4 linked regions of the Homo sapiens genome follow. The protein of the gene in region 3 interacts with the protein of the main gene of each other region in a pairwise test. Each region holds a gene or a part of one and is shown on either strand. Other genes may lie near its edges. The genes, in order: MEOX2, KIFAP3, NAA10 and SEMA3B.

Region 1 (7,026 bases), on a different chromosome or scaffold from region 3:
AAATTGGCAAATAAAATTTTATTTTCAATAAGTGTACATAGATTTAAACAGAAACTATTGTGATTTTCCTTTTAGTCAATATTTCTTCAACATATCAAAGGAAAGAAAAGCTCATTCTAAATCCCCAGTATTTTTATCCTTGGTGATGACTAATTGTACTTTCCACTGAAGTTTTAATCTGTTAATAATTTATGTAGCTGACACAAACACTTATATTTGCTTGTTTTTCCAGTACCCTCATTATCAGCTTCAAAATGTAGAAATGAATTTAATTTTGTTAAATGGTTATTTCCCACTAAGTTGGGGGGGAGAGATAAATTAGTTTTGTTAAATTATTCCATTTTTTAAAAAAATTATTAAAATAAATTAAGGGAATCAGTTATTGAATTCCGTTTTCTCAGTTTTCCCCAAACAAAATAACATGTGCTTGTATGAAAATTGTTTGCCCTGAGAAACTTAAGGGCAATGGCTCAGTTCAGGAAGCATGAAGAACAATCTATCATGTAGGTTTCTCATTGCAAGAAATAAAATGAACCGTAAGAGCTTATGGGAATTGCAAGAGTACGCTCATCAACCCGAACTGGGATCTGCTTCCAAAGTTACACTGATATCAAATGTTCAGTTTATGAAATTGTCACTGCATTCTAAAATCGACTGTTTTTCTAATAAAAATTGAAACCTTTTTGCTATGATTAACCTTTCAACTCACTATCTAAAGAGAGTTTCACTTATAGTTAGGAAAATACATTAAATATCAGTGACACTACTGGTAATTTTCTTATAAAAACTAATTTGTGATGGAACATTAAAAGTTCACCCCCTGACCTTGGAAAATAAAAGTTAGCTTTTGAGACCGTGAGAGAAGAATCCATCCTATAGTAACGCTGAAGAACAATTGATATTGCTGTGAATGGTGAAGGAATATTAAATATGCGGCCAATCATTTTCATTTATGTGGCATCTTACCTAAAGCTTTACACACGATCAACATTTTTCCAATCCTTCAAACCAACATATGGGATTACCTTCTAGGACTATTATTAACCCAATTCCACAGAGGAAGAAAAATATGCAAATATTATATTAAACAAATGACACCTTCCAAAAGTATTTAATCCAGGTTGCACTATACCCACGAAAGAAAACTCACAAGTCTCTTAATTTTAAAGTATCTTTTAACAATTTTATAAAAATACAGGTAGGTAAGAGCTTTGAAAACTTGTCTGGAAACTTTGAGTTTCTCTGGATTGCTACAATTTATTCGGCACGTTGTGCCTTCAAGCACCAGAGGTCAGGAAGGTTCCCCTTTTGCATGGCTGCTCAAATTATCCCCACTGAAATCAGCGCCTCCTGCGCGCACCCTTGCATACCCCTTTAGACACGTATCTAACTAACAGTACCCGAGTTGCTGTTGCTTCGCAGTATTTGTCTCTACTAATACCCACTTGGTAGAGGGATTTATTTTCCACTTTTGAAACTTAGGTTCTGTAATTAGCTTACACCACATGGACATGTACTATTAAGGTTCGTCTTTCTTCCAGTGTGAGCATCTATTTATTTACAATTCTCTGACACATTCCTTAAAATCTGAATTCCTAGATAATGTCTTCTTCCCCAATAAAGGGAAAATTTTACCATTTGAAATAGGGTGCTATTTAAAGAACGCTGAAATAAGAATGTTAAAAAAAAAAAACTGAAACTTTTTTTTCTCATGCGCTCTGCCAAGTTCCATTGCAAGTTCCAAACATTGTGCAATAATTTGGAAATCCAGTTAACGATGGGAAAAATCGAGCCACTCAGAGTCGGCAACTTGCAAGAGAAAAGTCAAGAAGCGGCACCCGCACGCACGCCTGCCCAACGGACGCTGCATCCCTGGGCGCACGCCCCTCCCTCCCCAGCGCTGGGATGGAAGGTCACGCTTCACAATCGATTTCACAGCCACTTGTCCTTTTTTATCAACCTTCTGGTAAACTAGTTTAGGACTTTGGAGGGCTTAGAGCTGCTGGCTGTATACGCATTGCTCTCGAATAAACACGTGTCCCCAAATATCAGGACCAAAGCTTCACCGCCGAATTTGGCCGCAGGAAGCCACAGAGGGCAACACATTCCCATCTTCCCTGCTGCCACCCTCCAGTGCGAGAATCTCCCCTAGTATCTCTCCGCCCCTTTTCCAGCCCGGCGCGCACTCTCGAGGGTGCCTGGCGCGCCCTTACCTGAGCTGTCGCTTTTCCTCTTGCCGCCGCTTCGCTTCTCCGCCTCCGCAGGTGACAGTGCCTGGCGGCCGTAGTCCCCCGGCGCGCACGCGGCCCCAGTCGGGGTGCTGGAGCCCAAGCTGGAAGAGTTGGAGCACAGGACGGGCGGGCTGCTCCCCAACTCTGGGGGCCCTCCAGAGTCGGGCTGGAGGCAGAGGCTGTGCCGAGCCGCACTCGGTGGGGAAGACATCTGCGGGAGGTGCCAGTTGGTTTGCAGAGCCTGGTGCTGCTGCTGCTGATGGTGGTGATGGTGGTGGTGGTGGTGGTGGTGGTGGTGCCCCCTGTGATGCTGGCTGGCAAACATGCCCTCTTCGTTGGGGTATCCCGCGATTATGCAAGATGAGGAAGAAGTAGAGAGCTCGGGGTAAGACATATGGTCAGATCTTCCATGGAGGGCGAGAGAGGATTGGGAGAACGGGTGCAAGCCTTGCGCCGTGGCGTGAGGGCTGCGCAGGCAGCCAAAGAGCGGGTGTTCCATAGCATGCAAGTTTCGGGTTCCAGGCAGAAGACTTCACGGCGGTTCCAAAGGCCACCACCCTCTGTCACTTTTTCACTGGAAACCGTGTGATTTTTTTTTTAACCTCCCAAAGCAATAGCGGTGCACTTCTGCAGAGCTCGGATAATCCCGGTCCTGAGCCCCAGCGGCCAGTCTCCTTTACATATGAACAGTCGGACCTGGAAGAGCTTCCCTGAGCTACTCAGATGTCAAGAGTGGGAGAGGTTGAAGCCAAAAGAAGGTGGTCCCAGAGAACTGCTTTCAGGGGGAAATGGCTCTGAGAAGTTATAAATAGAGTGTAACGTGAGCTGGGGGCTGGCTTAGGAGCCCAGAGTTGACCACATGCAAACTCCCTCCAAAACTCCCGCTCAGCCTGCGCCACGCGCTCCCAGTTCCACTTCCTATCTCCTGCTGGACGGACGTAGAGCGTCCACGCCCGCCCAGCACTGCCGGCTGCCAGGACTACAAGCGGCACGCCAACGTCTAAGTCCCGCCCGGGAGGGCAGCAGCTCTGCCCTCCAGACTCTGGAGGCCTGGGCGCGGCGCACACCACCCCCAACCTAGCACCCTGATTCCTACCTACTCACTTTCCTCTCGGGGAAACGTGACTTGTCAGTGTCATTTGGGAACTGTCACCTGCAGAAAAGCTAGGGATACGCCTATCCTTTCAGGAACACGAAAGAAGTAATAGGGTTAAAGGAAAAGACCAGAGCTAGTTTGGCGCACCCTCGAAGTTTTTCAAACTTTGCATCTTCCCGTGCCCCGGGCGCCGCAGCGCGCCTAGGTTTTCGCAGCTGGTTTCTGTCGGTGGGTTGTTAATAGGCTGGGACGCCAGATCTGAGGTTGCGGGGATGAGCACCATGGCCTGGAAAAGGCGGTTCTCAGTGCAGAAAGAAGACGGACCTGGTTGGGTGGGTGGGAGGAAGGCGTGAGTCTGAAAGGGTTGCAGATGCCTGCTCCCTGGCATCCTCACGTGCGATGCCAGGTGGAGGCTCCCTTCCCCCTCTTTCCCGGTCCCGCTCAATTTCCTAGCCACTTGTCCACCAAGAAGAACTTTTCCTGGGTCAAGAATATTTCCAAGCGATTGTGTCCCGGTCATATGAGATGTGTAGATTGCACGCGCATTTCTAGCCTTTCCCCTCAGGAGCTAGCCCAGATCTCCTCGGTTTCCTCCAGAAATCCACTCTCTTCTGCTCAAAAATAAATCCGCTAATGCATTCCTTACCACCAGGGTTCCATTTACTGAGAATTCTTACATTTCGATAGCTCCCAAAATTCACTCACCGTGGGCACTTGGTTACAATTTTGCACCCCTGAAAATAAAATAGAAAACTCGCCTCTAGTAAGCATGCGAGAGCGAGGGCAGGGCTTTGAAGCTGCTACTTGCTTGGCGGGCGACAGGGTCCGCTGGGGGCAGAGTCGTTTACACACAAGTGAGTGGCGCTGTAATGAGCAGGAGGAACAGTCATGTCCCATCTGCGACCTGTCGCATCAGGAGAATATCTGTAGTCACCTATTCTGCCCGGGGCCCCAAATGCGCCACCAGCAGTGTCGCCCCGTTTTTTCATTGTCTCAGGTGTCCAGAGGATGATGACCAGGTCTTTGAAGTTGTTAGTGGGATTAATGGGTACAGCAAACTGGGCTAGACATCTGGTTTGAATTAGGAAAAAGCATTGATTAATCTTTGAGAGGTGTCCCCAAAGCAGAACCTTTCCCCTCCTCTTCCAGTCCCCTTGCTTAAGCCTCACTATCTTCTTTTCTTTTAAGTCACACTGCAGAATAGTGGCTTCGCAATAACATCCGTGTGAAAGATCGAATTGTTTTCTATTGCTCAGAGGTGGGGTGGAGTGGGGGTTGATCAGGAATTCTGAGATTTGTAAGCGCTGCTTTCTTTAACGGAAATTGAGCTCTATTTTGAGGGAAATTAGTTTTGCAGACTTCGTTTAAAAAAAAAAAAAAACTAAATCTTTTGTTCACCAGCTGCTCAGCTTTTCAGTCTGGGTCTGAGCTGAAACCTGCTGCAAGTCTGACGGTAAGACTTTCTTTGCCGATATTTTGGGAATCTAATATTGTTTTAGACTTCGAAAAGGGGTGTTGTTCAGGTTGCACGTTTCTAGGGGCTTTAAGCACTCGCAGGATGGCGTCCAGGACTTAGATCTTGAGAATATCTCTTCCTGCCACTCCCCACGCCCTTGGCTCTTTAAGAATAAAAAGAGGTGGGGGAGTTATAGTCCTCCAATATCGTCGGAATATTTTTTTGTATTTTCATTGTGTTTATGGTTTCAATATGTGCTCTGATATTAAAAGTTAAAGTACAAAGAGCAACACTAAACTTCCCCAACTCATGTAGCTTCTCTATGGATTCTGGGTGAAAGCATTAAAGGCTTTATTTAAAGTGAGATTTAGGCAACCACCTCAATAAACCTAACCAGAAATATTTACATAATATAATGCTGTCAACTAAAAGCATTGTGGAAAATGTCAGACAAGACAGACTAAAATTACTCATGATCTGCAGACATCAGTACAAAACATCCACAACGGTCCTTTTGGTTTGCATTACATTGGTTTAGAGGAAGCTAAGCAATTACTAAATGAATGGATTTGAATTTAACCAGTGTGTTGCAGGTAACCAGCAACAAGCACACACAAACCTTTCATCTCCCGAGGCTGCCACTTCTTCTTAAACCTGCCCAGTGACTGTGCTGGATTTTTTCTCACTCACTGTGTCAGATGTTAACAACCTGTCCAGAAGTTTCTCTACAACCTGCCCCAGTCAGTCAGCCTCTAGAACTGTGGGGCCAGAAACCTGGGAAGAAAAATTTAAGAAAGGTTAGAAAAGGAGGAAGTCATTCCAAAGGCATGCAATGAAAACAAAGCTAGCAAGAAAGGTCTTTTTAATTGAAGACACAGAACATTTAATATCAGCAAAAATTATGATGTCCAGTTTTCTTATAGAAAACAGAATATAAGGAAAATATTTGGAAGGAAAAAATGAAGGACTAAAAAGGACGTCTTGGTGAATTCCAGAATTAAATATAACTTTAATTTTCTCTGGATTTCTAAATATGTATTAATCATTACATAAAGATTTTTAAATTTTATTAGAATATTTGGAATAAGATAGAATATTGAATTTTATGTTCTAGGTTATAGAGAAATTTTTAAAATGTAGTAACAACGGGAAAAAAATCCCTAGCATTTCCTATAATAGCTACTTCAGTGTTCACATCCATAAAATCCAATATTGAAAAGATGCCTTTTTACCTAATGATATCAAGAAGAATGGTAAAAATTATAAAATTTATTATAAAATTTCTATATAACAATCATTTACAACTATGTATGATATAGTATTTATCCTACATTTATAATATACTTGAGTTTTCCTGAAGATAAGTTATATTAATGCCAACATTTCATGTAAGGTTTCAATATCAAGTAACACATTATAAAGAGGTTGATTCTGTGAAAAGGTAAGCTACTTAGCTCTTGCAGGGTCCACAGCTATAATTATTTTAAACGTAGGCTAGGTTCTTTAAACTTGATAAGTGTGTATATCTATTGTTTCCTCGGCTTAAATAAAATGACATTCAAGAGTAAAGGCAGAGATTTCTTTTTATTAGGACTATTTTATTTTAAGGGGACTAGAGCTCATATTAAGCAATACAACAAAATTGTATTTAAATTTTACTTTAAGATTCACAACGATTCTTTTAAAAGTTGCCATTCTTCTGCACACGTGTGACATGAGTTGTCATGGAACTTCAAATATTTAAAATTAAATAGGAAACTCTACTTTGAATTTTACCTAATAGATAAATTTTCCTTGGTAACATATACTCATAATATATGAACTAAAGGGTGGATAATTAAATTAATGTTGTAATTTGTTTCTGAAAACTTTATTGGGTATAGAAATATTATTTCTGCTATATTTTGCCAAAAAGTAGCAGTTATGTCCTTCAGTTGGTTCTTCTGAAATAAAGAATTTTGAAAATGTATCCAAATATGCTAAATACCCAATGGTAATTTATGTGATTTATGATGTACATTATTTTATAAAACTAAGGAACTGATTCTCCCCAGGAACTATGCATTATAAAGTTTATGGAACAATTTTGCTATGGCTAATGCATGTTATTTAGTGATTCTGTATACTTTTACACATTTTTAAAATGTTATTATTTTTATATAACATTAATTGGTACATTCACAGTAAAAATTGTTACATTCATTTTACATGTACCAAAAGAAATGAATACTTAAAACCTTACT
Region 2 (7,040 bases), on a different chromosome or scaffold from region 3:
TTCTGTATAGGCTAGTATTTAAAGAAATACTATTTTATCTGGATTATAATGGTCAAATACCTTTGGGAATTACTAGATTGAACAAAGCTACACCAGATTATTTATTAAATAGGACTTTTTGGAGGCTTTGCTGTTAATATGCATTGTCAACCTATTTATGTGACTCCAAAATAATTTTTTTCAAAGCATGTACTATTCAAGTTCTCTGCATTGTGAATGTGAATAATACTGTGAAATGCTATCATAGGATGATTTTTAATTTGCTAAAAAATTTGTCACTACGTGGATTCATAACTAATACAATCAATTTTTGTTCATAGTCTGAATAGCCAGAAAGCTCAAATATGGGACATTTTCATTACCATAATAAATACTCATAATGCAGTCCATAAAGTACTATTGTAAATCCTGAGTATCTATTAAGAACAGTGGAATTATGATTTCTATATTTTAACATACAGATATTTTAATTATTTTAAGAATTAGTATGCCATGTACCAACCTGATTTGAAACTAGTGTCATTACTTTATAATTTTCATTTCCTCAAGAGAAAATTTTAGCAGAAATGCTTATTAACCTACCTGAAAGTTAATTTTGTGAAAGCTTTTTGTTTTATTTGTGGCTACTAGCATAAATTCAGTGTGATACTGAAATATTAAATTTATTTTTCTGTGTATAGATTTTATTTGGTTTTTAATTTGCTTTAATGGAACGAGTGTTAGTCTACTAACCTGCTCATTTTTTTCTAGACTTATTCAAGTTTTTTTCATATTATCAAATACATTAAATCAGATGTTAAAAAGAAAAAAATCAGTACTGAAGTAGGAAGATTACAGTTCTTAATTTAAGGTTATTAAATTAAGAAATGAAAGGCTTTTTAATTATTTTATTGTCACCATAACATATGTCACTTTATCTAAATCATATTTGATTACTTCTGTGTATAGTATATACTTGAAGCAGCATGTTACGTATCTTTAAGTAAAATTACATTTTAGTTTTAAAAGTAGCTGTCTGTATTGGAAAGAAGCATCCTACTTTTTGTCCCAGTTCTATCTTAGCTTTATTATTCATTAATAACTAGACATTTAAAACCAATCACCCTTTATACCAGAGCAAGGAGAATGATCGTTTCGGTACCTCTCCTTTTTCTTTAGAAACTGCCCTTGGTGCATTAGCAAGGGTCCTGAGAGAAGACTGGAAGCAAAGTGTCGAGTTAGCTACAAACATAATTTACATCTTTTTTTGTTTCTCCAGGTAAGTATAAAAATTATTAAATAAAAAGGCTACTGTATCTCTATTGCTCTTTGTCTGTGTCATTGATTCAATTTGTAGATCACTTGTTCTCTCAGTTTTTCTGTGTGTCTGCCTATGCTCTACTGCTGAATTCTTATTCCTGTTTTCCATTGTCTGTCTTGCTATCTGTTATTCTATCTTTCATTTAGTCTATACCCACTCATGCCTCAGTTTCCTTATGAGTAAAATTTGGATAGTAATAGTGGCACCCTCTTTGGATAGTTTTTTGGATTAAATGAATTAAAAATTAAAATACTTAGAATAAAGCCTGACCCAGAGTAAGTGCTCAGTAAATGTTATTGTTATATATATGCATGTATGTACAAACACATACCTGTTATGTATTGTATTTATTATTTATACACATATATCCTTAAGAAAGAAGATACTTATTAAGACATTATGAAAAGTTTCTACCCAATTCCTAGATAATTGCTGCTTCTGTTCTAAAAATGTGCTAGTATTAGCAAATAAATATTTATTGAATAAATACTTGGATTAATGTATTGTCTAGAAAACATATGTAAAACCTGATTACTAGTACTTTACGAATTCTCTGATGTCAGTTTTATACAATAAATAAAATGTATGTCTAGTATTGCTACATTATTAGTTTTGTTAGACAATAATCTAAAAATCTATTCTGAATATCTGAGTAGTTAATATGGTGGTTAGTTACAAAAAATGTCTACTTTCTAACTTCTTAAAAATAACTATTTTAGGTAAGAGTAGTGTGATATATTTAAAGTAATTTTATAATCGCAAGTCTTCCTAGTGTATTGTGGATATATTCATTTATTAAAATATGTATATCAAATTTATTTTCTACATGGTTCGTACCAGTGATCACCAAAAACAAATTTCCTGTACCCATAAAATGTATTCTTTTAAATATATATTAAAATGTCTTCTTTAAAGCTTTTCTCAATTTCATGGACTTATTACTCACTATAAAATTGGAGCTCTGTGTATGAATATTATTGATCATGAGTTAAAAAGACATGAGCTTTGGCAAGAAGAACTCTCAAAGAAGAAGAAAGCTGATATCCTTTTAGAGTGGCATTTGAACCGTCTGTTGTCTTTTGCTTTAAGTTTTGGATGGGTGGGATGGTTTTGTTCTTTTTTCTTTTTTAAAAATTGTTAATTACATTACTTGGAAACAATGCAGGAGTGTGTTATTGAAGGTTAAGAAGTAGATTGAAACTATCAAAATGAATACAGTTTGATATTCACTTTTTGTCTCTTCACAACCTTTATTAGTTAATGAGGTAGAAGGAGCAGGTAATAGTTGTGTCGGGTAACTTAGTAGGTGAGCCTCTAAGTGGTTACATCATTACATCCACTAAGATCCTTTGGTTAGTTGAAGCCTGGCCCACCACTGCTGCTTATATACTTCTGTGTGAGTACTAAGGTGACTTTGATTAGAATGGGTGTAAATTTGGTGATGAACCTAGTTAAAGGTTCTATTTTTCTAGGAAAGTGCAAAAATACTGTTGTTAATAAATAAAAATTTGAAAGGCCTATAGAATAATAGAACCTGTGAAAGGAAACTTAGGTATCTGTTTTAACCTATCTTACAAATATAAAAATATTTCTGCAACTTCCCTGGCAAATGCTATTACATAGGCTCCTCTTTAACAATGTCAGTGTTTATTTATTTCACCCATTCTGTGGTTTAGCATTCTGTTTATTATAATAGTCTTTTGCTTAGTGCACTGAAGTCCATTCCCCAATAACTTCTATCCATTGGTTCTAGTATTGTATACTAAAGCAATATGGAATAAGGCTATTCTCTTCAACATCATAATTCTTCTCATATTTGAAGATATTTATCATATTTTAGCCTCTAAACTCAATGCTTCTAGATCAAAGGCCCCTGGTTTATTCATATCTGTTCAACCATGATATGTTTTGCAGATCAACTAGGCATGCTGGTAACTTTCCTTTGAATCAAGTGTTTATTATGTCTTTTAAAAAGTGAAAACTTTATTCCTATTTTGCAGAATATCATACATTTTTAACTCTGCTTTGTGCAAAAGTGGACCTTACTTTTATATTAATTTTGGCCTCTGGAAACCCTGAGGCTTCAATTTAATCTATGTTGTAACAGGTTAATTCAGGTTATTGTGTACAAAATCTCTCAGGCTTTTACTGTTGTCACATGGAACTCCAAGACACTATAAAATCCACACCCACACACAAGCTTTGACTTTTCTTAATTAGAATCTTTTCAGGTTTATAAATTTTCTATGCATACCATAAACTTCTGGCATCTAGATTGATAGTGACTCAACTACATCAACAACCCAAGAATCCTAGAGACTTTACATCAGTTCTGGAGTCACAAGACTCCTGAATGCTTCAGTGGTACCCAAAATTTATTTAAACTGGAGAAGTATGGAGGGAACCACTAGTGGAACTCTTTAGCAATCATGAATTTGCATTTTGTTATTGTTTGGTGACAAGAACTGATATCTTAGGACATATTGTATTTCTGTATCAGACACCATTAATTTTAAGATTCACTATTGTTTAAGTGCGAGGAGAGGAACATATGCTTTCAATTAAACTATGACACATCAGGGATTATAAGACACATCCAGTTTTGGAGATGTTAAGATGTGAGGAAAATGTATCTTAGACTCAACAGATTATGGTAATTGAAGGGATATAAAAATGACATCAGAATTCTGGTCATTTCTCCTGACATGTTGCTATTTTATTATGTCCTAAATTTCTTTGTATTTTGATACAAGTGGTATTCAACAAGGTCAGCTGCATTGACTCATATTCTGGGGTCATATGCTTGACTCATATGCTTGGGGATACTGAAGTAACTGATTATTTTTGCAAGAAGTCCAGAGGACGATTTGGGACCAGAAGATGTGATTTTTAAAATTTGTTTACCTTTAAGTTTGGGTTAGTTCTTTCTTGGCATCTCTAGTCTGAAAAGGCTGCTACAAAAGCTTTAGATTTAATCTATATCCTTTGAATATTCTGGGCATCTGTCTGAAGTAAAATCCAGTGTTCTTAGTAACTAAATCACTTTCTGAGGCAGTAATTTTTTTGGTTCGTGGACCCACTTGATAATCTGTTGAAAGTTATAGACTTGTGCACCTATATAAAATATTCACATATAGTTTCTGGGAATTCAAGTATTTGGTGAGGTTCAAATATCTATATGATGTTAGCTGTGGGCTACATAAAAAAGTTTGTTCACCCAAAGACTCCCAGGGAATCCATGAGCACTTAAATAAGAAGTGCTGTTACAGCACAGTTATTATGCAGATAACATTTTAGTTAAACTTTTGGTGAGAAAAATAACTGGATAAAGTTGCACATAAAATTTAATAGTGCCATTGTTCATAGAATTTATCAGTAGATTTTTTTTGCTTCAATGAGTATGGATGATCCTTAACAAGTTGTTTACTTGATGAAGACCCTGAAAACCAAACCTTGAGAAAGGATTATGAAAAAACCTTTAAAAAGTACCAGGGGCTTGTGGTAAAACAGGAACAGCTATTACGAGGTATGAATTCCTAAGCAATGAGGAAAGCAACAAAGTACTTACTCCAAATACATTTGTTTTGTTCACTTTTTATCATACCTGTAAAGCTAATGTGAGAATAGCTGAAAGTTCTATAAATGTTAATATGCTACAAGTTCGTCTGTCTTTAGCATGGGTAATGTTTTAAATTTCACTCTACTATTTTTCCCCATTTAGTTCCTAAATGTTTGTATACTTATTATTTATTTCCTAAGAAAGGATTTTTTAATCCAGTGTGTGACCTTTTCAATAATATCAATCTTTGTCTCTTCAGCCCTAACTTACTTGTTTTATAAAGTGAATTATTTTGTTGCTTTCCTAGGAAATTGATATAAACATTTTAAAATATTTCTCTTGTTTAATAGAAAAGAATTCCTTGTCTCTAGCTTTATTAAGATATTTAAAACTTCAATAGTATGGTTTCTTGGTTACTGATAAGATGTAAAATCTTATGGTGGTTAGTGATAATGACATGGGGCTTTTAAGTGTGAATTTAAGTCCGGATTTATACTTGACTATTTGATGATTCATGTAGTTTATTGGTGTTTGACTAACTTTGTACATGGAAATACTTGTTAACTCCCAAAATATTTTCATCCTGTGAAGATTAGTAGCAATTTTAACTACACTGAGTTTTTTAAATATTTGAAGCCAAGTAATTTAGTTCAACCTGTTGGAGAAAATGTCAGATTTTCAAAGGTTCATTTTAAAATATGCTAGAAAATAATAGGTATTATCTGTGTTAGCATATAATCCAAAATGCATCAGATCTCAAGAAAGCAATTGTTTTCATGTAAAAGTTTCAAAGAACTAATTTGACTTTTTTAACATGCAAAACTTTAAGCTCTGTTTCTAACCAAATATTTATGCAAATATTGTATACTCTCTTAACAGCTTTATTGAGGTATAACTGATAGACAATAAACTGTATAGTTTTAAAGTATATAATTTGATAAATTTTAACATATGTAAATACCCATGAAATAATGACCATAATCAAGATAAGGTACATATCCATCACTCCCAAAATTTCCTCATGCATCTTTACAATCTCTCCCTTTCCTTCTTCCTTCTGCCTTCTTCCTCATTCCCAAGTCATCACTGATCTGCTTTCTGTCACTTTAGCTTAGTTTGCATTTTCTAGAGTTTTATATAAATGAAATCATATAGTATGTATGCATTTTTGTCTTTTACTCAGCATAATTAAAGATTCATCCATATTATTGCATTTATCAATAGTTTATTCCTTTTTGTTATTGAATAGTATTTCCTTATATTCACCTGTTGATGATCATTAGAATATTTCCAGTTTTTGGCAATTTTAATGCTGCTGTGAACATTTTTCTACAAGTCTTTGTATGGACATACGCTTTCTTTTCTCTTAGTTAAATACCTAATGATGGAATGGCTGAGTCATAGGATAGGTGTATGTTTAACTTTGTAAGAAACTGCCAAATGTTTTTCTATAATAGTTGTTTTTATATTCTCACCATGAATGTATGTGGTTTTGATTTGAATTTCCCTAGTGACTGATTAATGTTGAGCATCTCCTGATGTGCTTATCTGCCATCTCTTTATGTTTATTGAAGTGTGCCTTCATAACTTTTGCCTTATTATTAAATTGGATAGTTTTGTATCCATTCTTTATATGTTTTGGATATAAGCATTTATCAGATACATGATTTGCAGAAATTTTTGTTCTCCTAAAGTATCTTTTTAAGAGCAGAATTTTACATTTTTATGAATTCCAACTTAGTGTTTTTTGGATCATGGTTTTGGTATTGTGTCTAAGAAATCCTTTCCTAACTAAAGGTTACAATTATTTTCTAATATGTTTTCTTCTAGAAGTTGTATAGTCTCAGAGTTTAGTTAAGGCTATAATATATTTTGAGTTAATTTTTGTATATGGGGTGAGGAATGGATCAAAGTTCTTCATTCTTTTTGCATATAAATAGCTAATTATTTAAGTACTACTTTTGAAAACACTATCTTTTATCTACTGAATTGATTTATATCTTTGTCAGAACCATTTGTCCAATGTGTCATGCCTATTTTTGGGTTTCTATTTTGTTCTATCCATCACTTTTGTGTGTTTTTGATGCCAATAGCACAGTGTCTTCATTACCATAGCTTATGGAAAATGTTGATATTGGGTGCTTTTAGCCCTACCAATTTTTTATTCCATTGATTTCTACT
Region 3 (3,353 bases):
GTTGATCCCAGGTCTGGCCCATCAGGGCACCTGAGACCGGCTGAGTTGCCTTCCAGGTCGGGGGTGGGCCGGCTGTGGGGAAGAGGCTGTGGACCCCAGCACTGCCAGGATACCTCCACATTCACTCGGCGGCTGATGGTTGAAAAGCCGGCATGGAGACAGCACCTGCCTGCTGAAACGTGCTCCATGTGTTGTGATGGAGGAGCTCTGGCCCATGATGGCTGAGGCTGGCGAAGGGCACACGGGCTGTTTAGTAATGTTTGGGAATAGAGAGGTGTGGGTCCCTGGCGTGAGCAGATGCTGAGGAGCAGGACTCAAGCATGACCAAGCACCTAGAAGAATCCAAGAGAGAGCAGAATCGAGGAGAATGCACATTCAGGAAGGAAGGGCCAGTGGCCAGGCAGCCTAGTGGATGGGGGAGGTCTGCCTGAGGACCAGGAGGCCCCGTGTGCCTAGCACACTAGAGAGAACCTGGCAGTTGGCATGCCCAGTAGACAGTGGAAAAAAGTGCTTGCAAGTGAAGCTGGGGTGGGCTGCCTGTGGAGGGACACTAACTGCACTCAGCCCGTTTGGTAGGGGATGAAGAAGAGGGACTGTTGGGAAGGGCGGTGGCCTCTGGGCTGGATGCTGGCAAGAGGGATCTGTGACCCAGATGACGATGTCTGGTGGGAATTGCTTTATAGCTAAGTCAGCAATCCTCATGTCTTAGGCCTGGCAGGGCCAGCCTAGGCCATTGAGTCCAGCTCCCCTTCCAGGGACATGGCCACGCGAGTCTGCACACACACCTGCCCAGTGTAGTCACGGCCCCAGAGCTGCTCAGGCAGGGCTCACCGTCTTTCCTGGGTTCTGATGGCTGTTGTGAGGCAGCTCAGTAAGGGACAGGGCGCAGGGCAGGGAGGGAAGGGGAAGGCTGAATTCAGGGCTTCAGCTCACAAGAAACCGCAGAAATGGATCCTTAGTATCCAGGCTAAGGACACAGAACGGGGGCAGGACGGGTGGGGCGGGCCGCTGTGTCCTGGAGCCTTTGCTGGAGAGAACAGAGGGCAGGTCACACTGGACTTGTTGTCTCAGGATGGAGCCTTCAGGGAGAAAACATGGCACCTTGCTCCAGTAGCCACGATACCAGGAGTGGAGGAGGGTGTCCCCGGGATACAGGTCTTCCTCCTTGCTCTCTAACCCTCTGCCCCCAGGATCAGTGAAGTGGAGCCCAAATACTATGCAGATGGGGAGGACGCCTATGCCATGAAGCGGGACCTCACTCAGATGGCCGACGAGGTAAGCGCCTGCATGAAGCCAAGCAAGGCGAGCGGGGGCGGCACTCAGGAGCCCCAAGACAGTGGCTGCAGGCGAGACCGACTTTGGATGCCAGCTCTTGTGGCTACGTTGCCAGGAGTCACGACCTCAGTTTCCTAGGCTGGGCTTTAGAGGAGGCCATCTGCCTAGCAGCCTGGAGGGTGATGGGAGAGGCAGAGGGAGGAGGCTTTTAGAAGGGAAGTGGGGAGGTCTAGGGACCAGTGGGTGGCCTGCCTGCTCAAAGGTAGTTCTGAGTCAGGGTTCTGCCCAAGGCTCATCGGGTGGCAGGGCTGGTCAAGGGGCAGCGCTCTGTCGTGGGGGCCTCCATGGTAGTCGGTAAGCCCAGGTAGCGGTGGACTGGGGCTCCAGCCAGGTGTCCCCACTCAGTCCCGCGTGTCCTGCCTAGCCCTGCTGCCTCACTATGCCCCTCTCCTCAGCCAGCGACAGGGCCAGGCTCCCTTTGTCTGGAAACTTAGGCCCTGTCTCTTTGCCCCCGCTTCTCCCTGGGTTCCTGGTGGCAGCTGAGGCGGCACCTGGAGCTGAAAGAGAAGGGCAGGCACGTGGTGCTGGGTGCCATCGAGAACAAGGTGGAGAGCAAAGGCAATTCACCTCCGAGCTCAGGAGAGGCCTGTCGCGAGGAGAAGGGCCTGGCTGCCGAGGATAGTGGTGGGGACAGCAAGGACCTCAGCGAGGTCAGCGAGACCACAGAGAGCACAGATGTCAAGGACAGCTCAGAGGCCTCCGACTCAGCCTCCTAGAGCCTGCCCCATCCCCTCCTCACCCCACGAGCTTTCACAATAAATTCGCTCCGTGGCACTGGGGAACTTTGTGTGTGAGCGCGCGCACATTTAGAGGGTGTGTTTCTCCAGGTCCTCTGGTGGGGATGTGAGCCTTGGCCTTTTGACCCAGAGCATCCTGCCAGGCCCGAGTACAAGGAAAGAGCTTTGGAGGTGGGACTCCCTAGTCTCATGACCTTCAGCAGCTGTGGCCCCGGGGAAGGAGGCCCTGGACTTATGGGAGAGACCCTGCCTTGGAGGTCTGCTTGGCCACGCTGAATGTGTTTTGTGGCACAAGCCGGGGCTGCTCAGGCTCAAAGCTCAACAGCAGGGCTCCCACTCTTGGTGGCCTTCAGTTCTCTTCCCACCTTCACCTTCAGACTTTCTCTCCCTAATCACACCTGCTTCGGGCTACAGCAGCTCCCCAGCATACCCGTGGGCTCCAGATGTGGACATCCAACTGCTCATTGGGCTTATCTACAAATGTCCTGTCTGAGTAATGACCCAGCCAGATGCCCCATCAACAGTCCTTGAGTCCTCCCTCCCCTGCCACCCTAATGGTCAGTGAGTCCATGATACCTCTTGAGTCTACTCCCTAACCTGAGTTTGCATTTGAAAATAATTTATTTTTAGTACAATTCCCCGCGTTTCCCCATTGACATTTTGTATTAGTTGGTGTATTTGTTATTGTTGATGCGCCAATACTGATAAGTTATTGTAAACTACAGCCCATGGTTTACAGTAGGTTTCCTGTCTGTGTTGTACAGTTTCTATGGGGTTACACAAATGCATAAAGCCATGTATTCCCTCATTAACAATTTCATGCAAAATACAAAACTGGGCGGCTGTTGGGTGCGGTGGCTCATGCCTGTAATCACAGCACTTTGGGAGGCCAAGGTGGGCGGGATCACTTGAGCTCAGGAGTTGGAGACCAGCCTGGGCAGCATGGCGAAACCCCATCTTTACTAAAAATAGAAAACTTACCCGGGTGTGGTGGTGCATGCCTGTAATCCCAGCTACTCGGGAGGCTGAAGCAGGAGGATCGCTTGAGCCCGGGAGGTGGAGGTTGCTGTGGGCCCTGATCATGCCACCACACTCCAGGGACAGAGACCCGTCTCAAAAAAAAAAAATATATATATACATATATATATACATATACACATATATATCAAAATCCTGTTTTTCATGGAGTCACCCTAACCGTAACGCTCGTTTCTGTGTCTTTCCTCCTTTCCCTTCCCTCCCCTCCGGCTGCAAAGCCATCATTTACTGTCCCTAGTCCCT
Region 4 (5,940 bases), on a different chromosome or scaffold from region 3:
GGCCAGCCCCGTCTTGTCAGCGAACTCAAATGCCACCCCTTCAGTGAGGCCTTCTGTGTACATTCTTTTCCACATCACCCAGTTTTCTTTTCTTTGAGACAGAGTCTCGCTCTGTTGCCCAGGCTGGAGTGCAGTGGGGCGATCTCGGCTCACTGCAACCTCTGCCTCCCTGGTTCAAGCAATTATCTTACCTCAGCCTCCTGAGTAGCTGGGATTAAAGGCGCGTGCCATCACACCCACCTAAGTTTTGTATTTTTAGTAGAGACAGGGTTTCACCATGTTGGTCAGGCTGGTCTTGAACTCCTGACTTCATGATCCGACTGCTTCGGCCTCCCAAAATGCTGGGATTACAGGCGTGAGCCACTGCGCCCGGTCCAGTTTTATTTTCTTCCTAGCACTTAGTCCTGAAGTTATATTATGCACAATGTACCCTGCGTGTCACTATTCCCAAAGGCCCTACAGAACCTGTTCAGTCACGCGGAACCACCTTTTTTTTTTTTTTTTTTTTTTTTTTTGGAGTCTCGCTCTGTCGCCCAGGCTGGAGTGCAGCGGCGAGATCTAGGCTCATTGCAACCTCCACCTCCCAGGTTCAAGCAATTCTCCTGCCTCAGCCTCCTGAGTAGCTAGGATTACAGGCGCCCGCCACCACGCCCGACTAATTTTTTGTATTTTTAGTACAGACGGGGTTTCACCGTGTTAGCCGGGATGGTTTCCATCTCCTGACCTCGTGATCCGTCCGCCTGGGCCTCCGAAAGTGTTGGGATTACAGGCGTGAGCCACCGCGCCTGGCCGGAACCACCTTTAATCCTCACCAGGCAACCTTGGACAGGAGAAACTCGGGCCCTGACACCGCTAGTAAGGTGCCCAAGACCACATAGCAAGGCCGAGGACTGGGGTTTTCTGCTGGGGCCATTCCAGCTTTGGCTGATAATGCGTTTATTGCGTTACTTTAGTACAGTCGGCCTGCCTCGCCCCACCTCCAGCAGCCCAGCCTGTTCACAGCTTTCTGCTCACTGCTCACTACCCAAGGAGGTGGGGTCTGTCTCCCAGGGTGGGCACTCCAGGCACCTCCTCGGCCCTGGTCGTTGCTCTGGAGCTCGGCTTCCCCGTCCCTTCCCTCCGGCTGAATCCTGCGCCCGACCTGTGCCGCCCTCCCGGGGCTGCTACATTCAAGGGTTATCCTGTTAATAAATAAGCCCGCGCAGCTGCCCTCAGCCAGGGCCTGTCGGTTGGTGTCTCCATCGGCCGGTGACCCCCAATGTGCCCGGCCCCAACCCGTCCTTCTTTTCAGGGTCTGTCTGGCTCCTCTCTCGCCTGTCGTCTCCTGCTTGGTTCCCGGCGTGGGGACAGTCTGGTCACCAGTGCGTTGCGCTGCGCGGCCCCCGCTCAGCGCGAGGCTCAGGGGCGTGGGTCCTCCGGTTACGGCCCTTTCTCCGCGACTCCAGGGGCAGTGACTGCAGCGCAGGCTGCGGGCGGCACATGCGCAGGGAGTTCGCGCTGCCACCTCCGCCCGGCTCCACCAGCTGCAGAAAGTCCCGGTACCAGAGTTTGGGGCCCGGCGGCGCGGCGGGCGCAGCCTCCTCGGCCCGCGCCAGTCGTTCGGCCTGCGTAGCACTCAACACGTGCAGCGACAGGCGACGCAGCGGTTGCGTAAAGCCCTGCTCGACGGCGGCGCACAAGTACACGCCCGAGTCCCGGCGCCGCAGCCTGCGCAGCAGTAGTCCCCGGGCGGTGCGCTCGGTGCGCTCCTCTGCCAGCACCTGCGGGCAGAGGGCAGCGTGAGGCGGGGGTGTCGGGCCGGGAACAGGGCTTCCGGGCCCTAGCACGCGACGGAAGAAGCAAAGAGTCATTGGGAGCCGAGGTGGAGCGGGAAAGGGGTGCCCGCAGGCGCACATTTTAAGGCTGAGTGTTTGGGAGCTGGTGGTCTTCAAGGGAGAATCCGAAAGAGGCGGGGTTTACATGAACTTGGTGGGGGGTGGTCAGGGACCTTAATGGGAGGGTCGAGGGCGGGTCTTCTCCTTGATTCAGGGGAGGCGGGTCGGGAGCCCCGTTGGACGCAATGGGGCCTCAGCAGCTTGTGGAGTGCAGGTGAGGGACCAAACTGGACAGGGCGGGGAGTGGGTCTGGTTGGACGGGGCTTCGTTGGGTAGGGCGGGGCCTCTCCTGGATGCAGGGGGTGGGACAGGAGCCTGGCGGGGAGGGCGGAGTAAGGCTCACCTGGGTGTGGGCTGTCACCCCTGCGCGCTGGAAAGTCCACTCCACGCGCGCCTGCAGCGAGCGGGGCTCACACTCCAGAAAGGCGCTGCTGCCCTCCACGCCGAACACCTTGTGTTCCAGCAGCGCGGGACGAGACGAGTCTTGGGGCGAGAAGAAAGTCAGATTTAGGCAAGGCAGGGCAGGTGGGGCGTCTTCTGGGGCTGAGGGTAGGGGCAGCTGGGGCACTCACCTCCGGAGCACAACGTGCTGGGGTCGCCATTCCTTACGTCTTGCCGCCGGAACCGCCTGTGGGGAACATCCGATCTTCTGTGAGCCCTTCTTTCAGCCCCGGGCAGTGAAAGACCCTTCGCCTCCCTCCCGGCGGCCCAACCCCGACCCCGCCCACCTCTTGGCACTGGGCTGGAAGCGCGTGCACGCGACCCCGTCCCAGGCGCAGTAGGGGTCACGCGCCAGACAGCATTCGGTGCAGACGCGGCCGTGGGCAGCGCAGCGGTGCAACGCGATCTGGGCCACCGCGCTCCGCGAGGCTACGTACAGCTGGTGCTAGGGGGCACGAGGGGCTCTGGGCTGACCGAGGGCGACCCCACGCCTGCCTCCCATCGGTCAGGGATCCCTTCTTCCACTCGACAGATGGGAACACTGAGGTCTTACGCCTCAGGTCACACAGTCTAACAAAGCCAGAGCCTGTACTCAAACCCGGGACTGCAAACTACCAAAAGGGGCCAGAGGCTTGGGACGCGCCAGGCACAAGCTCAGTCCATCCCACCCCGACCCCCATCCTGGTCACTCACCCTCTTGGAAGAAATTTGCATGCTGGTGACAGCGGCCGAGTCCTGAGAGGGAGGAGGGGCGACGGGGTCAGGGCTTAGTGGGGTGGGGGGGTCCCGGGCGACTGGGGGTGAGGCCTCACCTCAAACACGTGCAGCTCCTCCAGGAGCAGCCCCTCTGCGCTGGGCCTACTGCCCTTGGGGACCGAGATCACCTTCAGCACCGTGCCAACGTCTGCAGGGATGAGAAGGGGTAATGACCATTGGTGCTCCCGGACAGCTGGGGCTAGTGTCTCCTCGCCTTTGAGGCGTCTACCCTCAGCATGTTTGGGTTGTGAAGAGTGTGGACTGGAAGAGTGTGGGTTGGGCAGCATCCACAGGGTGGAGACACAGCCCAGGAAAGGATGTGGAGATGGGACTGAACAGGGAGAGCTTCCATCAGCAGCCCACAGGGCCTGGCTGGGAGCCTGGGGGTCGCTGTGGAGGGACCCTGACCTGTGCCAATGAAGAGGACGTCATAGTGTCCGTCAGCGGCTGCAACCCGGTCCGCGGCAATTTGAGTGAAGGTGTAATTGGCTCCAACTTGTAGGAAAAGAGGGCGCCCCCCAGTGGGCAGGACAGAGTTGTACATGAGGGGGTGGTTCCGCGCAAACTGGATGACATCGTCTGGGAAGTCCTTGGTGGAACTGAAGGTGCCAAAGGTCTTGCTGGGGCACTGGGGGTGGGGGAAAGGGAGGCACAGCAGGGATATAGATATGGGGGCTTGATAGGCAGCCCTCCATGCCCAGCCTCTGGGAACATGGAGGGGGATGGGGACAGAACCCTGCCCTGAGAATTAGAGAGGAGATCAGCCTTGCCCTAGGAAGTCAGAGGCGGGAAACAAGCCTTGTCTTATGATGGAAACGTTTTCCCACCCATAACTAAAGGAAGAAACCACATTCACCAAGAAGACCCCAGGCCAAGTTCTCAAACCCTTGAGGCTTTGAAGTGGGTTGTAGCAGAAGTCCCTGGGCTACGAACCATGCCTGGCCGCGGGTAGGGGACGCGACCCTGGTATGACACCCACTGGTGCATGGGCCCCTCCTTGTGTGCAAAGGGTCCCAAGAAGGCCCGGCGCACGTCGTTCATGCTGTACACGCACACCGCAGAGCCCTGGAAGATGCTGCTGGAGGCGAAGACCAGGGCGAGGTGAGGGGCCGGGTGGAGCCCAGCGGCCCGCCCCGGGCGCTCCCTACCTCCTGCCCCTCACCTGGACGTGGAGAAGACGGCATAGAGCAGCGGGGTCCGGTGGTCCCGCGAGGACAACAGAAACACATCCTCTGCGGGGAAGGGGCCTAGCTGGGGTAGGGCGCACAGCCCCGCTGCGGCGGGGGCTCCCGGAGTCTGCGCCGCTGCCCCCCTCCCCAACCCCATACCCACTCCCGCACTCACGGAGCTGATCGAAGTGGGTGTCGCCCTCGACGCCGGGCACCGAGCACACCAGCCGCGCCTTCAGGAACGTCGTCCACTTGTTGACCAGGCTGCGCTGGCCGCCCACGTCGTTCTGCCGGGACGATCAAAGGGGATGAGGGCGAGACCAGGGCAGGCAAAGGGGTAGGGGCAGGGTCGCCGGGTGTGGCCCAGGGACTCCTCACCCGGCAGATCTGGCCAACGCGGGACACGGACAGGCGTCCCAGTGCCGGCGCCGCCTCTACCGCCGTCTCACGAAAGAAGAAGTAGATTTTGTCGTCGTCTGGGTTCTCGCTCTCCGGGATCCAAAATACCTTGACAAACTTGGGCTCTGACCGCGGCAGGAGGCATGGGTCAGCGGGTCCTGGCCTTGCCTCCTGATGCGAGACCCACGCGCTGCTTCCCCTTCCCGTAGTGCGGGCACAGCACCCGGGATCACAGTGTCTGACCACCCAACCTCTAGCACCATGTCCAGTTGGCGCTCTGCGCGGACCGAATCCAAAGGATCAGGGCCTGCGAGGCAAGAAGCAGCCGCGAGGGGGCAGCAGAGACCGTGGCTACCTGGGGGCGCAGGCGTGAAGCCCGGCTAGCCTCCGATCTCGCCCCACACGTCGCCCAGCACCTTAGGCTGGGGTAGGAGGGAGATGAGGTAATCTGGTTTCACCTTCACTCATGAATCTTCCTCTCTAGCATAACCAGATGCTCCCCACTCCTGCTTCAAATCCTTCTGCTGGGTCCCATTGCTCTTTATTATTATTATTATTATTATTATTTGTTTATTTATTTATTTTTTGAGACAGTCTCGCTCTGTCGCCCAGGCTGGAGTGCTCGATCTCGGCTCACTGCAACCTCAGCCTCCCAAGTAGCTGAGATTACAGTCAGAGCCTACCACCACACCTGGCTTTTTTTTTTTTTTTTGAGACGAAGTCTCGCTCTATTGCCCAGGCTGGAATGCAGTGGCACAGTCTCCATTCACTGCAACCTCCGCCTCCTAGGTTCAAGCGATTCTCCTGCCTCAGCCTCCTGAGTAGCTGGGATTACAGATGCACACCATCATGCCGGACTAATTTTTGTATATTTAGTAGAGACGGGGTTACACCATGTTGGCCAGGCTGGTCTCAAATGCCTGAACTCAGGTGATCCGCCCGCCTCAGCCTCCCAAAGTGCTGGGATTACAGGTGCACACCACTGCACCCGGCCAATTTTTGTATTTTTTAGTAGAGACAGGGTTTCACCATGTTGGCCAGGCTAGTCTCAAACTCCTGGCCTCAAGCGATTTGCCTGCCTCCGCCTCCCAAAGTGCTGAGATTACAGGTGTGAGCCACTGTGCCCACCAGCCCATAGCCCTTATTTAATTTTTATTTGATTTAGAGACAGGGTCTGCTCTGTCCTGCAGTGGCAGCATCATGGCTCACTGCAGCCTCCAACTCCTGGGCTCAAGTGATCCTTCCATCTCAGCCTCCTGACTAGCCAGGACTACAGGTGTGTGCATGCCACTGCCCCCAGC

The links.
Region 1: the proteins of NAA10 (region 3) and MEOX2 interact in binary tests that used the Homo sapiens proteins (3 or more experiments, as listed by UniProt).
Region 2: the proteins of NAA10 (region 3) and KIFAP3 interact in binary tests that used the Homo sapiens proteins (3 or more experiments, as listed by UniProt).
Region 4: the proteins of NAA10 (region 3) and SEMA3B interact in binary tests that used the Homo sapiens proteins (3 or more experiments, as listed by UniProt).

The regions. Positions count from the first base shown.
Region 1 is NC_000007.14:15,683,673-15,690,698, forward strand, and holds the start of MEOX2 (homeobox protein MOX-2), read right to left. Parts: upstream 3,012-7,026; 5' UTR 2,731-3,011; coding exon 2,214-2,730; intron 1-2,213. UniProt on the Homo sapiens protein: Mesodermal transcription factor that plays a key role in somitogenesis and somitogenesis and limb muscle differentiation. Required during limb development for normal appendicular muscle formation and for the normal regulation of myogenic genes.
Region 2 is NC_000001.11:170,029,672-170,036,711, reverse strand, and holds part of KIFAP3 (kinesin-associated protein 3), read left to right. Parts: intron 1-1,158; coding exon 1,159-1,258; intron 1,259-2,215; coding exon 2,216-2,340; intron 2,341-4,727; coding exon 4,728-4,826; intron 4,827-7,040. UniProt on the Homo sapiens protein: Involved in tethering the chromosomes to the spindle pole and in chromosome movement. Binds to the tail domain of the KIF3A/KIF3B heterodimer to form a heterotrimeric KIF3 complex and may regulate the membrane binding of this complex.
Region 3 is NC_000023.11:153,928,685-153,932,037, reverse strand, and holds the end of NAA10 (N-alpha-acetyltransferase 10), read left to right. Parts: intron 1-1,190; coding exon 1,191-1,275; intron 1,276-1,814; coding exon 1,815-2,051; 3' UTR 2,052-2,813; downstream 2,814-3,353. UniProt on the Homo sapiens protein: Catalytic subunit of N-terminal acetyltransferase complexes which display alpha (N-terminal) acetyltransferase activity. Acetylates amino termini that are devoid of initiator methionine.
Region 4 is NC_000003.12:50,272,122-50,278,061, reverse strand, and holds the end of SEMA3B (semaphorin-3B isoform 1 precursor), read right to left. Parts: intron 4,944-5,940; exon of another isoform or gene 4,765-4,943; coding exon 4,619-4,764; intron 4,528-4,618; coding exon 4,416-4,527; intron 4,319-4,415; coding exon of another isoform or gene 4,304-4,318; coding exon 4,234-4,303; intron 4,150-4,233; coding exon 4,005-4,149; intron 3,700-4,004; coding exon 3,480-3,699; intron 3,220-3,479; coding exon 3,128-3,219; intron 3,051-3,127; coding exon 3,009-3,050; intron 2,761-3,008; coding exon 2,603-2,760; intron 2,503-2,602; coding exon 2,447-2,502; intron 2,358-2,446; coding exon 2,218-2,357; intron 1,761-2,217; coding exon 1,356-1,760; 3' UTR 516-1,355; downstream 1-515. UniProt on the Homo sapiens protein: Inhibits axonal extension by providing local signals to specify territories inaccessible for growing axons.